2 separate regions of the Homo sapiens genome follow, and region 2 is linked to region 1. A link means that fine-mapping ties the variant in region 1 to the expression of a gene that starts in the linked region. Tissue or cell type: whole blood. Region 1 holds a variant in brackets; the other region holds the start of a gene. All regions are shown on one strand. Distances are from middle to middle.

The links. PIP is the estimated chance that this variant, and not a neighbour inherited with it, causes the effect.
Region 2: CHORDC1 starts here. The variant in region 1 is fine-mapped to the expression of CHORDC1 in whole blood (TOPMed, PIP above 0.99).

Annotation. Positions count from the first base shown.
Region 1 is chr11:90,200,177-90,202,676 of GRCh38, reverse strand. CHORDC1 (cysteine and histidine rich domain containing 1) reads left to right here. Exons shown (of 11, transcript NM_012124.3): 11 at 126-2,248. The coding sequence ends at 272. Among named protein-coding and RNA genes, the nearest start is that of CHORDC1, 22 kb to the left of the region's middle. The variant A/G (reference allele first, on the strand shown) is at 1,212.
Region 2 is chr11:90,221,518-90,224,374 of GRCh38, reverse strand. CHORDC1 (cysteine and histidine rich domain containing 1) reads left to right here and starts at 1,326. Exons shown (of 11, transcript NM_012124.3): 1 at 1,326-1,484. The coding sequence starts at 1,421. LOC124902812 (a long non-coding RNA gene) reads right to left here and starts at 1,216. Exons shown (of 2, transcript XR_007062978.1): 1 at 955-1,216.

The DNA of each region.
Region 1 (2,500 bases):
ACTAGATATAAAAGAGGCCTTTAGAAGCTTGGATTTGGGATTATTGGCATAAGCAAGTCTGATGTTTTCCTCTGAGACTAATAAAACTACTGAGGTTTCCTGTAATTCTCTTTGATATGTTACAGGTGATTGATGTAAAGCGAAGTTATGTAACTATGACTGCAACAAAGATTGAAATCACTATGAGAAAAGCTGAACCGATGCAGTGGGCAAGCCTTGAACTGCCTGCAGCTAAAAAGCAGGAAAAACAAAAAGATGCCACAACAGATTGAGTGGGAGATGGAAGGAAGGCTATTACATTATTTCCGAATTTTTAATACTGTGTGAAGTGGTGGCTTGCTGCTGTAATCTTTTGTTTTGTTGTTGTGTTACTGAATGTGGCATTTCAGGGTTAACATTAGGTTCTTAAAAGCCAAAGTCAGTTTGTCTTTTTGTGCCTCTCATCTTTCTTTTGTGTTATGTAAGATTGATTATTCATTTCTCCCTACTGGTAGGAACCATAGTTGTGTCCTATACTTGAAGAGGCTGGAAAGTAGCCCATAACCATAATTGCAGTATTTCTTTGTATTTCTCTGTTAAGCAAAGAAATATTAAGGAACATTTTTTTTATGTTTTTGTATTATTCCATAATTAGTAAAGCAAGATGAAATGTCAAATTTTAATCAGTTTTTTCATGGATTTGTGTTCTTACAGTACTTGAAAATATTTAAGGAAGAGATGAAGCTCTGCAGTTTTTTCTATGTGGGATGATTACTTTTTTAAGGAGGATTAATTCTGAGGTAGTATAGTAACTAAAGGGGAATATATGAATTGTTTAACAAATTAGAATTTGTTTACAACTACTTGAATTTTTAAATTATGTCAAAACTTACATTACTTGCCAAGCAGTATGATGTTATAGGAAACATAAATAAGATTACAGAGGTATCAATTTGGTTAAAATTCACCATTTTATAAGACTAAGCAATAATCTTAACAACCTCTTTCCTGAATATTTAAATGTGTTTGTATGGTGTTATGACTAATTGTTACTGATTTAGAGACTAAGCCCTCTTAAAACCTTTAGTTAAATATAAAAAGAAATTATATATATCTTGCCTCCCTGATGGAAAACTATATAAAATTGTAGACTTAAAAGGTTTGTGGAAATACATTAGGATATCAGAAAACTAAATATATGGAGTTGCTTTATGACTATTACATGTTAAATA[A/G]AAATAGCTTAATTGTTTTGGAGTTTTTTTTTAAAGTCATGAAGAGCTTCACAATTCTAGTGATACAATGTTGACTATATATTGTACTTTATATTAAATATAGGTAATACAGAATTAGATCGTTTGGATAGGTTTTGAGTTAGTGCAGAACTCAAGAAGAAAAATTAGGAAATATTCTGAAGGCCAGAACTCTGGAAGAACTTAGAAAGTTTGGGAATAAATTAAACTTATGTAGATTTAAAATTAAAAGGGGTTTATTTCCCAAACCCCTTGAGTCTTTTCTTTTCCTTGGTATTTATGGAATTCTTACAAAGAAAAATTTGCAGAAGTACTATTTTCGTGAATAAAACATATGTATCATTCTACTACCATTAGCAAATAACTTAGTTGTAGTTAATATAATTGTTAAAAGGTTTAGCTCTGTTACAAATAAAAACATAAAGATCTGGCAACCAGACTTTCATGATGTTACATTACCATGACAAGAAACTCTGGGCAGTAAAAGTTGGACCCACATGGAGTACATAAGCATCTGATACCTGGAGATGTATTTAAAATTTTTCAAGTTATCTTCCATGATTTAGGAACCATTTAGAGACATGAAGTCTTTATGGGTTGGGGGAAAGGTTGATAATTAGTTTGATTAAAGGTAATGATTAATATCCCTTTTTGTTCATACTTCCTTCTGAGGCTGTTTTCCCCTAAACAGTATCTTAATCTGTTACATGTAATTGAAATATTATTTGAAGCAGTGAGTTATTGTAACCTCAGATTAGTTACATTGATCAAAACATTGATTTATACACACACACACACACATACATATGTAGCTTTTATATTTAGTCTGGTTACATTAGTGACCATGGTATTTACTTTCTTCTTAAGGAGCCTTTGAATTTCTTGTCCAGATAAAAATCCGAATATTTCTCTTAGACTCATACATAAAGGGACACAGTTATCGTTAGGTAGCATATGTTTTACTATCGGTTTGTCAAAAAAGTTAATAAAAAGTGCTTATTGATTTATTTCTCTAGAAATTTGCTTTGTCTTTTTTAGCATTAAAAATAATTACTATAGCAAAGCAGTCAAAGTTAGGTATATTATATATATACTTGGTAACTAAAGATGGGAAACCTAAAATGCTATTTTTCTTTCATAGCACATTTACTAGTATAAAGGAAGTAAGATCCTAATAAACTGAGCCTTTATTTAACTTCTTTGACCTAGTTTTAGGTTTACAGAAAAGTTGTAAAAATACAACAGTTCTTTATGTCTTATATTAATCTTAA
Region 2 (2,857 bases), 22 kb before region 1:
GCTCTATATATCTTTAAAATCTTAAAGTTATTTAAAAAGCCTTATGCCCTTTACCCCAGAACTGTCGCTTTCCAAAAATTTTCCTAAAGGGGGAAATTCGAAATAAGAAAAACAATACACAGGTTGAGCACTGTAACTTATATATAATAAAGTTGGGGAAATTAGAGAAAGGTTAAATTACAGTGCATTTATTCAACAGAATACTCCGTCATTTGTAACAATGACTATGAAACAAAATAGAAAAATACTCACGTTAGGTTAAATGAAGAAAACATACCTATCTATGGTGGATCACAATATGAAAATTTAATACTTCTAGGTAGAAGAAGAGAAAGAGAATATGAAAAACTAAAAAGTCTTTAGGGGTAGGAGGACGTGAGCAGATCTCTAAATAACCTTGAGATCAATGGAAACAGTGTATAGATTTTTAGGTTCACTTATAAGCTGCTGATCTTATTTTAAGATCCTTCAGTATATGTTATCAAAAAGTGTTTGCTTTTCTTGCAAACGCCCATGTTTGGGAAATATGCAAGTTGAAGCCAATGCATTACTGTACTTTTTATAATGCACCTGAAGTTTTACTAGCTGTTCCAAGAGTGGTGTACTGAGTATTGATAAATCGTTTAAGTGGAGGCTCACATGAAATATTAACTATTACCCCAGGGCTTTAGAGCAACTGTGATCAATTCTGGCACAGCATCAGATCCATAATTTTCTTTGCTACTCTGATTTCTACGTTTTTTGTATTTTCAAAGTAATGTGACCGCAACTGTTAAGTTATTAAAATTGCTCCTGAGATGAGGGCACTCGAGACACAAACACACGGAGAGGTTCGTCCGCTATTCCTCTCATTTACTAAGCTCACACGTCTACCCTGAGGATTTGGAAACACTGTATGATTCTGCACTTACTGTGCACTTATCCCTTAGTGCTAAGGGGTAAACAGATACCCACCGGGCTGTCTAAGGCGCAGCCTCAAGGCAAGGAAGAAGGGTGCTGGGTCGCAGGGGATGAGAGGGCGGGGCGGCCACTTTGCTGCAGGAGATACCCAAAGCCAGTTAGCACTGAGGAAGTCAGAAGAGAATTGTCAGTCTCTCGGACACCTTCATTTTCTGCCCCGGAAATTTCTCCTCCGCTGTTGTCTGGGCTCCACTTCCGACCCCCAGTTGCTACCAGCTGTAGTCCGACCTATCGTGGCCCGGGCTAGTGCCAGCCTCCCGCCGCTACCTCCGCCTCGTCCCTTCTCCTCTGCGCCTGCGCGACCGGAAAATTCGCGAAGGTTCCTGAAACGCAACGGATCGTTTCCGGAAGCCGGTAGCCGCCTCAGTCGTCAGACCGGTGCTAGCGACACGGGAGTGGCAAACGCATCCTCTTGCCGTTCCCGGTGTTTGGGCCTTGCCTGTGACGGTGGGAAAAGAAAATGGCCTTGCTGTGCTACAACCGGGGCTGCGGTCAGCGCTTCGATCCTGAGACCAATTCCGACGGTAAGAGGAACGCGCCGCCAGCCCTCCCTCCCCTCCACCTCATCAGCAGGGGAGGCCCTTTGGGCCGGAGGGTGTCCGCGGATCTCCTGCAGCCGTCCTCGCGCGGCCCCAGGTCCATGCCCCTCCTGGGCCTCCCTTGGCTGCCCGCGCAGCCCGCCGGCCGCCCCTCTGTTGCGCCGCGTTCCCTTGGCGAGCGCCCGGCCCCGGCGCCTGACTGTCCTCTGCCACTGCGGAGAGAGACGCTCCCATGGATCCACGTGTTTCCCCCGTCGTCCCCGCACTCCTTTTAAGTCGCCTGGAATTTAGAACGAACACGTTTCTCCTCTGGCCCTCCAGTCTCTGGGGAAGCAAAAATTAACGAGGTACTGGTGAGCTTGCTTTGTAGTTCCCGAAGTAGTGATGGCTGTGATTGCCTGCGCGAGAGGGAGAGGTGGCCGGGATGAGCAGCGGGTTGTCCTAGCATGTAAGCTCTGCCTTGTAGAAGTTTGTGTTCAGTCGATCCGCTGTTACAAACCTCTTACAAGTGTTCTTGGTAAGGGACATTACTCTGTATCTTCACGCTGTTTTGATAGGTTCATCCTGGTGGTACGTTAGTTATCTTTTTATTACTAGCGGCATTTGTTGCTTGTTCTTCTTGTGGCCTCCACGTTTTACTACCATGCCTACTCCCGTATAAAATGAGTGAATGTCATCTACAGCACCTAGATGTCGAGTTAAGGATCCAAAGCGAAAATGACTATTAGGTGAAGGACGGGAAATGATCAGTGAATTGAAATTTTGATTGACAAAGAAGTGAGATGATTCCTTGCGTATCGTGAGAAGTGACAACACGTTTTCAGATTGAACTAGCATTTAGTTTATATTTTCTGCATGCCAGCCATTATTGCTTTATCTTATTTAATCTTCATAACCACCCTGGGACGCATGTAATGTTAATTAGACCCATTTGATAGAGAAGCTCAGTTCAATGAGGTTGTATTAATAACATCCTTCATTATTGTGGAGGAGATGAAAACTGATGCCTTTTGAACTCTTCACCTCTGAGATGTTTGAAATACTTATTTTTGGCACACAGGTAAATTGATAGCGTTATTTAAAATAAGACCATTGATACAGAGTTTTAAGGAAAAGGAAAATCCAACCTATGCAATACTCAAGTTACCGCCACTGACATTTTTATGATGCAAATATGATGCTACTCATGAGGAAAATTGTGAGATTTCAGTCGATGACAAAATCGAGAAACGATTTTAAAGCCCTTTGGTGTTGGCAGCCTATGTAAAACATTAATTGCACTTATGTCTGCAGATATTCTACTTTAATATAGAATACAGGGGAAAGACTGACGCTTTGCTTATGAGACAATAAAGTTC